Regions from separate parts of the Homo sapiens genome. Here region 2 is reported to be linked to region 1. Evidence: microRNA targets listed by miRTarBase, many of them from high-throughput screens and not tested one by one. Region 1 holds a microRNA gene; the other region holds the end of a gene's coding sequence.

What was found. The annotated mature microRNA hsa-miR-548h-3p reads CAAAAACCGCAAUUACUUUUGCA and lies in region 1 at 3,472-3,494, shown strand. An mRNA with a match to its seed (bases 2 to 7 or 8) in the 3' UTR can be bound and repressed. Matches are read on the target gene's strand: a 7mer-m8 pairs with bases 2 to 8, a 7mer-A1 pairs with bases 2 to 7 and ends in A, and an 8mer does both.
Region 2: the mRNA of MRGBP is a reported target of hsa-miR-548h-3p. Seed matches in the 3' UTR shown: 7mer-A1 at 1,470-1,476 and 7mer-A1 at 1,713-1,719.

Annotation. Positions count from the first base shown.
Region 1 is chr8:27,046,986-27,052,364 of GRCh38, reverse strand. MIR548H4 (microRNA 548h-4) reads left to right here and starts at 3,402; the gene lies at 3,402-3,512.
Region 2 is chr20:62,798,937-62,804,315 of GRCh38, forward strand. It overlaps MRGBP (MRG domain binding protein), which reads left to right. Exons shown (of 5, transcript NM_018270.6): 4 at 39-113; 5 at 520-2,793. The coding sequence ends at 707. OGFR-AS1 (OGFR antisense RNA 1) reads right to left here. Exons shown (of 3, transcript NR_102430.1): 2 at 3,079-3,173; 3 at 1,691-2,143. Among named protein-coding and RNA genes, the nearest start is that of OGFR, 3.2 kb to the right of the region's middle.

The DNA.
Region 1 (5,379 bases):
TTTATTCTTGTTTGTCAAGATTACTTTAGCTATCGTAGGGTCTCAAACTTTTCATATAAATTCTAGAGTAAGCTTGTCTTTCGCAACGAAAACTTTGCTGGGATTTTGATAGAAATTGCATTAAGCATATAGAGAATTTGGCCAGAACTGACATCTTTACTATGTTGAGTCTTAAACTCGGTATGTTTTTCCATTTAGCTCCTTGATTTCTTTCATTTAATCTTTAATTTTTGACAATTTAACTATGATGTATCATGGTGTCTCTTTGGATTTGTCATCTTTTATGTCTTATGGGTTTCCGGGATCTGGCTTTCTAATGTCTTCCTGAGACTTCGGAAGTGTTCTGCCGTCATTTCCTTGATTATGTTTTATATCCCTTTCTCTGTTTCTTTTCCCTGTGGCACACCAATAATGCATAATTTGTTCTGCTTAATGGTGTCCCATTGGTCTCTTCATCTATAATTACCTCTTTTTATTCTTTTTTGTTTTTGCTTCTCAGACTGAATGATTTCCAGTGATCTGTCTTCAGGTTCACAATTTTTCCCCCTGATTGTTCTAGTTTGTTATTGAACCCCGCTATTGAATTTTTTAATTCAGTTATAGCATTCTTCAGATCTATGATTTCCATGTGATACTTTTTTATACTGTATCTTTGTTGAAGTTCTCAGCTTGTTCTTGGATTGCTGTCTTGACATCTATGAGTAACCTTATGGCCATTATTTAGAATTTTCTGTCAGGTAAATCACAAAACTCCACTTCATTCAAGTATGTTTTTGGAGATTTATCTTGTTACTGTTTGTTTTGTTTGTTTGTCTTATTGTTTGTTTGTTTTGTTCCTATTTCTTTCTTTTCCTTGATTTTCAGTATTGGTTTTTTTACATTAGGTAGAAACCTACTTCTTAGTAGACTGAGATTGCATAGAAGGTTTCTACCAGTCCGTTTGACTAGAGATTTTAAGGTGCCCCTCTTATTTCGGTGTTTGTTCAGACTGCTGTGCCTATACCAGAAGGTCTATGACATCTTATAGTACTAGAAGTCTTATCATGACATTTTTGTTAAAAACTTAGAAATTGATTTCTGAAAAGATTTTACAAATGTAGTGAGGTATTTTCTGTATTTTATCATACTAAATAATCTCCAAATAATCTGATAAATGAGCATAGTGTTCAGAAAAAACCTCTTTTAATGTGATGAATCTTTTATAGATTTAGGCATATTTATGGCAAACCGACTATGCTGTATCAGTCCCCCTTCACACCCCCGAGGCTCAACTGAGATTTACCATTGGAATTAATTGTGAATGGCTTTGTCTCAGGACTATAACATATTCCAAGCTAGAGGTTTCAGGAACAAAGCGTCTGCATCTGTCTTTGTCTTTAGCCCTCACGTGAGGAGCCCATTTATTAGCCTTCTTTATTAATTTTTTATATGGAGAAGTGACTCAACATGTACTAGACAGCCAAATAAATTACTGATCATCTCCTTCTATGCACAGTTTCATATTACCAAAAACTATACGCATATATGAGTTAAACAATTTGGTAATATGTTAACAACATAATATCTAGAAGTATCTCACCACTTAAAACATACGTGCACAAACACACATATTCAATCTTGTTGGCTTTTATTTGTTTCAATACTATAATTCTATTTTTGATATCCCTTCAATTATAATTTAGTTTCCATTGTTATGATATATAAATATATTTGTGCATAGACTATTTGGATATTTTATATTTGCATTAACTAAAAATTTTCACCGCATTTTTGCATGCATAATTTTGTTCTATTTCTTTCTCAATTTTGCTTTAAAAAGTATCTTCATTTTGCAGATGTGCAAGCTGAACAGAGGATTAGAACTTATTTTTTCTAAAAATCTAACAGTTAACTTCTAGCAGCATTGAGACCAGAATATAGATCTTCTGACTCCAGGCTCTTTGCGGTAAACATCAATCCCTCTGTGGCTAATGTCCAAACACAAGATGAAAGAAAACGTGGAGCAGAATACAAAAGGAATTATTTCATGCTGCATTCAGAGGTGTCATTCATACCCAGGAAGCACTTTTAATTACCAATCTGGTGTTAATTTTCTTATCTGTGTCTCATCTGTGACTAAACATTATCCAGCCCAGGCTGATAAATTCTGATATGAATCAGATATTATTTCAAATTTATGCTTTAGCCATACCCATGTAAGCAGTCTCCTACCCCATATATCTCATTTACAGAGACTGTTTATTTGTAGTTAACTTTTAAAAATTCAGATTCATAGAATTACAACTATAAATTGCCAAACATGTATAGAATTATTATTATACAGAAAATAATATCAGTGTCATTATATCCAATTAATCTTTCATTCAGAATCTTGTGCAGAACAGATTAAATTGAGAACTTAATTTTTTACACATTCACGATTTAACCAGAGAATGTGGCTCTATTTTATATTAACAAATAATTTCTTTGTTTATTCAATAAGCAGTATTCATTGTATTATTAAAAAATGGTCTACTCATAAGGTTTTAAAACAATTGAGTCTATTTATTTCTTTTCCCCTCATGTGTTAATATTTTTTTTGCCTAGTGCTTTAGAAAATATATGACCTAGAAAGCAGCCTAATTCTTGTCACAGCTGCAACCTTACTGATGCAGAAAATTTGGCATTTATATACAATGAAGCTGTCTCTAATGCTTTGTCCACCTTCTAGAATCCCCTTTGTTTAATTACTATGTTTGGAGCCTCAAAAAGGGCCTGCTTTCAGGAATAAGTGGATGGGAATGAGGGGATGCTGATGTGTGAATAAAACGGTGATATAAAAGAAAATGGCTAATTCCCCCCTCTGGCTGAAGTCTGTGGAGGTTGTTCTGCCTGTCACTGATAGCTGTGTGAGTCAGTCTCCAATTTGGGAATTACAATCCTGACCCACCCCCACACCAGGATTGCCCCTGCTACACGTTTCCATGGTGCCAAACTTCCCTGTCCTAGCACGTGATGGCAATTGCTTCTGCTTTCCCTGATAGATGTGCAGGGTTGGGGACAATGCTTGCCTTCCCAGAGTCACATCAATATCTCGCACAGAGCTGGCACATGGCGGGCCCTTCATAAATGCTTGTTCAATGAAAGAATAAAGACAGTTTAAAATTTGAGCTCATTTCTGCCTTTTTCTTTTTAATAGCTTTATCAAAGTATAAATTGATAGACAGAAAAACCCCACATGTATTTCATGTGTACAATTTGATGAGCTTGGGTATACATATACACCCATGATATCATCACAATCAAAATGATAAACATATCCATCGCCTCCAAAAGTTTCCTCTGCCCCCTGCTTTTTGTGGCAAGTGTACCACAGAAAACTTGAAGCCAAACTTGTGATCCTTCGTTGTTCCATTTCCAAAGCTATTAGGTTGGTGCAAAAGTAATCGCGGTTTTTGTCATTACTTTAATTACTTTACGTTTCATTAATGACAAAAACCGCAATTACTTTTGCACCAACCTAATACTTGCTATCATCACTTCTTGTCTATTTTCCATTCCTCTTATAAATGTTGTACAAACTAAATCACACTTAAATAAAATAAATGGGAAATAAAGAAAAAGGAAAAAAGGATGAATGCAGGGAAAAAACACTGCCTGGGTCTGTCTTCTGTCATTCCCCAAAATAACAAGCACAAGCCCTGATATTCATATTCCCAGCATTCACCAGTTGCCCTTTTTTTTTTTTGAGATGGAGTTTCACTCTTGTCGCCCAGGCTACAGTGCAATGGCGTGATCTTGGCTCACTGCAACCTCCACCTCCCAGGTTCAAGCGATTCTCCAGCCTCAGCCTCTCGAGTAGCTGGGACTACAGGTGTGCACCACCATGCCTGACTAATTTTTGTATTTTTAGTAGAGATGGGGTTTTGCCATGTTGGCCAGGCTGGTCTCAAACTCCTGACCTCAGGTGATCCGCCAGCCTTGGCCTCCCCAGATCCTGGGGTTATAGGCGTAAGCCACCCTGCCCGGCCCAGCTGACTTTTATCTTGAGTGACAGTTTTAGAGAAAGGAGGAGGAGGAAATTAGTATATATGGCAGTAGTATGACATTTCATGATCTTAAAAATAGATTTCACCAACTGTAGAAGGTGTTCCCTAAACTAACTGCCTGTGTAGTCTTAATCTTCTCAACGTAACAACAGGTAGTCCATATTGTGGCAGGGTTGGGAGGTGGTGATGGAAAGGGGAGGTGTGAATTCCACAAGGTCTGAGACTGGGACAGGAAGTCTCCATTTTGGCAGTGCTGGTGGGGTAAGAAAGGGCTAATTAGAAGAAAATGCAGAAGCTGAAGTTGAAAGATCAGGCAAAGGCAAAATACTGGTCTAGTAGGAAGTCCAGATCATGGTCAAGTTGGATGGCTTCAGAGGGAGCTATTCAGATGGGCTCCAAAAGTGTCAGCGATCTTCTCTGATAAGCTACCCAAGCTCAGGGCAGGGATACTGATGCTCATTTTATGGTAAGAGCCAGCAAATGAGATGCACTGATTCCACGTTTGTGGATTCTAAACAGCATTTTGCCTTCCTTCTCTATAGTCCTCTTTGCAGCACTCCACGTTACCACCACGGGCATCCCAGATGTTCCTCCTTCATAAACACCTCTAGTTGTTCGCTTTCCCAACTCATCCCTTTTCCCAGCCTCAAGGAAGATAAATCAGTTTTGGGCATTAACTTCCATCCAGTGCACTGGGCTGAGGAATCAGCATGGCTGATTCTGCTATCACTTTCACGAAGCCTGGGGGCAAATGAGGGGAGTAGGGAGGGGTTGGGACCAGGGCACACACATATTGTGAATCTAGGAAGAATCTTAGGATTAAAGCTGTTGCATTTTCCACTTGTATTGAAGCCTTGGGGGTAATGGCTATCCCTTTACCACACTCTCCACCTGACTAAGCTCTCTTCAGCAGAACAATCAACCCAGGCTATGGCTGACTTCATCCAGGGAGACCTAAATTTTTCCATTTACTAGGACTTCTTGGACTTTTTTTTTTCTTTTAATAACCATATAGTCAGCTTTACCCACAATGCATCACCTCTTGTCATCCTCAGACACAACGTGAGACATAAGTTGCACTGACCAACTGAATCCTTCTAGTCTCATCCTCTCCTCTGAGATCTTCCTACTGCTTCTTTTACTATTAAGTCCTCTAGAATCCCTATGCTATGAAAAACACAATCCATACAATTTCACCCTGAACATCTCCACTTGGACACAATAGACATCTCAAACTTAACATATCAAAAACAGAACTCCTTTTTTTTTTCTTCTTTTTTTTTGATACAGGGTCTTACTCTGTCATCTAGGCTGGAGTGCAGTGGCGCAATCTCGGGTCACTGCAGCGTCC
Region 2 (5,379 bases), not on the chromosome of region 1:
CGTGGGTTTTCGGTGAGCGTCAGCTGTCTCCTCCACAGGAAAAGTGATGATAGAAGAGGAGATGAAAGAGGAGATGAAGGAAGACGTGGACCCCCACAATGGGGCTGACGATGGTGAGTGTGGAGCTCACCCTGCCCTGATGCCCTTTGGGGCTCAGCACCCCAAGACTGCCTTCAGGCAGGGCACAGTCAGGTGGGCGTAGAGCCTGCGGTGCAGAGGCCCCAGGCAGGTCATCTAGGCACAGGATGGATCCTGCAGTGCCCCCTCCCCAGGAGCTGAGTGCCTGCTCCATGTTGTAGGCCAGGGTCTGAGCGGCGGTCCCTGCAGTGCCCGCCGCAGGCAGGTCCTCAGGAGGACCAGGCCCCTCTGTGGGCCCAAATGCAAGGGGCTCCCAGCTCAGGAGGAAGCTTTGGGTTCAGAGGGTCACGTGTCAGTATGCAGATTTTTTTAACTGAACAGGAAGACAAAAATAAGATTCTGGATATTCTGTTTTCAGCCAAGTGATTTTTCGTTTCTCAGTTTTTTCATCTTCAGGGAGTTTGGGGAAAGCATCAGAAAAATCCAGCAAAGACAAAGAGAAGAACTCCTCAGACTTGGGGTGCAAAGAAGGCGCAGACAAGCGGAAGCGCAGCCGGGTCACCGACAAAGTCCTGACCGCAAACAGCAACCCTTCCAGTCCCAGTGCTGCCAAGCGGCGCCGCACGTAGACCCTCAGCCCTGGTGGCGGCAGAGAAGCGGGCGAGGCACTGTGGTCGCTGAGGGGGTTGGCTGGGTCTGAGTGCCACCCCCCAGGCCACAGTGATACCATCCCAGTGCCATGAGCCCACACTGCCCGCCCTCAGGCTCTCAGGTGAACGTGGCCGTCAGCGGGGAAACGTGTGTGTCAGTTGGACCATGTGGGACCCTGATGGACCTGAAAGACCAGGATCGGTCCAGCTCAGATATTGAGGGCTCTGAAGCCTAGTTCTGTCTTCTCTGGAGCAGCTGTGGCTTCCCCGTGGCTGCTTGGTGACATGGATTAGCGCTACGTGGGCTGCAGCATTTGGGATCCAGGCTACCTAGAGGGGCATCGGGCCAGGGAAAACCTCGGATTAGCAAGCAATAAAAACATGACCTCACTCTTCCTCAAAGGAGCCCCTGGTCTTCCCTGTGTGACTCAGTTCTTTCCATCTGTTTGTCCCGCTGCAAGCCTCTTTCTGCGCTGACTGTGACATTGGAACGTGGCCTTCCTGTCACCCCCTCCGTGCCACGCACTGAAGGCCACCCCCACCCACCTGGGAAACTAAGAACTGGATATTTTGCCTCATTCACTTGTACTGTAACAATGTATATAATTTGGTTGGTATTTCACTATTTAATTTTTAAGAAGCCTATTTTACTAGTGTTTTATATGAACAAAGTACTGCAGAAGTTAAACCTGTGTTGTATTTTTTCTGAGATGTTTTGCTTTAAGAGATACTTTTTGCTCAGTTTTTATATGCCAGATACAGAGAATTTGTAGCGGTTATTTTTGTATGATCTAGTAACTTGCAAACAGACCAAATGGATGAGAGGCGGGGACCGTGCAGCTGTCGGCTGATGAGGAGGCGGCCGCCCCAGTGCTGATGGAGATGCCACTTTCGTGTGACTGCGAACATTAAAGCACAAAAAAATCCAACCTGGAGTTGTGTGATTTTGATACCAAAGTAAGTTCACTTTTCCTCCAAAAGGAAGTTTTTATTTTTCCAAGATTTATAACTAAAGCATACACTTAGATGACTTATTAACATTCACTTGATACAACATATAAACAAAATAGTAACAGATTCTGAGTGGTTATTTTGTGGACTGTGACAAGCACTTCAAATACAAAATGTTAGGAGGGCAAAACGGTGCGGGCCCTCGTAGGTCAGGCAGGCACCAGTGGGCTCCTTCCTGCTGAAAGCTGCGGCTGTGAGATGAGACCGCTGGCTGGGTCACAGAGTGAAATCCAGCGTTCCGTGTGCGGACGAGGAGACAAGCTGTCCTGGCCAGCCATCGCACCCCAATGTCTTCAGCTTGACGTTGCTTCTCTGCCAGTGGAGCCTCCTCCACCACCTGGGAACATCCCTGGCCATCTGTCCCTGAAGTCCTCCTCACCATGACGCAGATCACAAGGCACCCACTAAAGGGGCAAAGCCAGGAATCCCGTGCCATGTGATCGCCCCGTGTGGCACCTGCCACTCGTCTGCACCAAACGCACTGCCAGTTCTGGGGAAGAACAGCCCAGGGAAGCTGCTGGTCTACGGCCTGCCTGAGCTGTATTCCAAGGGTAGAGCAGCTGCCTGGGGGGACCCTGTGGGTCCCTTTTCTATAGAGCCGGGACAAATCCACAGCCCTGCAGTAACAGCCTGCCACAAAGAGCAGGCATCTGGAGGGCCCCACACACATAGACCAAAGGACTGAGCCCGCCTGGCATTCCTCCACTCACAGCACAAATACTCAGCCCTGCAGCCAGGGAAGGGTGGGGTCTCCCTTTGCTGCCCAAGTGTGCCCCCTTGCCCGTCTGATCTCTCCTGTTAGGTCAGCCTCATTCAGGGCTTTGTGCCAGGTCCTGTCCTGGAGTCTCAGTCCGGGACAGCAGCCTGGCTCTTAGGCAGTCCAGAAGCAGCAGGGCAAAGGGGGGCAAATACTAACACGGGGTGTCACGGGATGGCCAGGAGGAGTCCTGCTCGCCACCCAGGCTCACTGTCCTAAACCTCCATCTGAAACCGCATCTCGGGTGACCTCAGATTGTGCTAGGAAAGCCTAGTTAATAAATCTGCCTCATCTCGATTACTGTAACATTTTGCTGCACTTCCAGGAGAAAGCTAGAGCCCACAGGTTAAGCCCACTGGGCAGGTGAGCAGCGTGCCCCCGCCCCGGGCCTCCCTTCTGGACCAGAGGCTGACTGGTTGAAGTCAGGAGCCACGCAGCCCTTATGGACTCACAGGGGCTTCTGGGCTTCCCTGTGGGGAGGCCCAGTTCATGCTCTGCTGGCAGGTGGGATGACCAGGTCAAATTCACAAGTGTCAGGGCAAGGGCGATGTGGCCTCAAGTCCTGGTAAGCGCTGTACTTACCCTCTCCTGGCCCCAGGGGTCCTGTCTGTAACCTGGGGGCTTTATGTAATGCACACTCCACCATGTCATGTAGAAGGTGCCGACTGAACCCCAATCTGAAAAGGAAAACAGCTGGCATGAGGCTGGCCCGTGCACGGACGCTCACGCGCCTGCTGCTGTAGAGGCGAGACGTGGTACACTGTGCACTCGGGACAAGATCTGAACGGGTCAGAAGCCGCCGCTGATGTTGAGCCTGGAAGCCTCAGCAGCGGCTCTACACCTGGAACACGCAGGGCCCAAGAGCACCTGCTGCCGCAGAGACATTTTCTCTATGGCTGGCAGCTGCGGGTGGGGACTCAGTGAAGGCTGAGAGTGGGAGTGATCTGAACTCCCCCGCCTGCCCACCCAGGGCGACCCAGGGGTGACTGGGAAAGGCAATTGGGCTCCACTGCTCCCCAAATAGCAGCGAATAAATACTGAGCGGCAGGGCACTGGCAGCGAGGCTCCCTGCTTGGCTGGTTGATTGAGGACAGGGCATGCTTGGGCCAAATCAGGAGGCTGCCACTGGTCTTGCCTGGAGAAGATATGAAGGCTGTAATCCAAGCTCCCAGCCACACAAAATTCTGCTGGGCTCCTTAGCTGTGAGCATTGCCTGCTCCAGGCACATCACCCACTGCGTGTGCAGAGACCATTGCCCTTCCTGGGTGCCTGGGAGCTGTGTGTGTGTGTGTGTGTGTGTGTGTGTGTGTGTGTGTGTGTGTGTGAGTATGTGACAGAGAAAGAGAGCCCCTTTCCCCAGCCTCAACAGCAAACCCTTCTGGAATGCCGTGCCACACGGGGCGTCACTGGACTGCAGAGGATGCTCTGAAGAAGCAATTCTGTTGCACAGTCCCCTGCAGCAGCTCCTGCACTTCTTGGATTAGCACGCCCCCGAGATGAGCTCTGCACACACACACACACACACACAACACAAAAGCAACTAAAGAAGCAATTTGGTGTGGTGATATTTGTAAAACAGAAGTTGGGCAATGTCTCTAATACTCTTTTTAGGGAAGTGGTTCTATAGTCCTGCCGACAGTAGGTAGCAGCGGGAATGCTGTCCCCGTAGAACAATGTTGTCAGCACCCAGTATGCTTGTCTTTCTGTTTTCTGGGGCAGTGGAGGGGGCAGCCTGACCACCCAAGTCTCAGATCACCCAAACCCTATACAACCACCCAGCACCCATCAATGTCCCCATCAGAGCCCCCCGACTCCACCTCACAGTCTATTCTGATGCTGCAACCAGATCCCACCTGTAAATCATCTAACAAGGAGGTCAGGCAGCTCACTCAGGCTCCCTGGGAAACCTGCCCTGGCCACTGCACTAAGTTGATTTACAGAAATGTCCAGCGCCCCAGAACTTCGGGGCATCACCACTGTCGTTTCAAGAAAGTGTGATGCATGTCCACAGGTTCCAGCCAGGTGAGACTGCACCTGCTAACAGTGGTCAACAGGTCAGCAAAGATTAGGGCCCAGCACCCAGAGGGTCCTTAACCTGTACTTGTGGCCAGGATTGGAAGACTTGCGTTCACGGCTGTCCCTGGCACACAGTACAAGGAATGTCACCAGTTCCCAGGCCCAGCAGGCCTGCAGGGCTAGGAGATGGCAGTGTCCCCTAGGGGCTGGGCTGGGGCCTTCTCCACCTTTCCACCACCATCATTACAGGGACAACTCTGCGAGGAGCTATCCTCATGGCCAAGTCCAAAATCCAGATTTAGTTTTACCTAAATGTTTTGAAATGAATTGGTATAGCAGTTACAGAAGAAATTTATCTGGAGTGGCCACTCCTGATTTTTATTTCAAGAGGTCACCAACCTTGCCATGTATCTGCCAGCAGATGTCAAAGGTGGATGAGCAAGGGACCCGCGGTGCTGGGAAATGGCAGGTGAAAGTGACTTTGTGTTGCCCCATATCTGCCAGTGCTTAGAGAGAGGGCCCTGAGGAGGCGCTGAACTGGCATCAGCTGTGTTGAACAGTCCCCAGGGTGACCCTCCCGGTGGCCCAGGCTTCGTGTGGTCCTCTCCCCTAAGTGCCTTCTTACAACTGAGAGATGGCGGCAAAGGTGAAGGAAGCCACGGCTTGCCCATGTCATCCTGGTTATATAAGACTCGGCACCCTAGAGAGAAAGACTCCCCTGGTGGCTTTGAAAAGAAAACGGCCGTGCTTTGCACTGCCTATGGAGGGACAGGGGTCCGCCAGCAGCTTCCAGGAGCTGAGTAAGGCCCCCAGCCCGCAGCAGAAGGACAGAGACCCCTACACACCCAGCTTAGGGAGAGAGGCCCC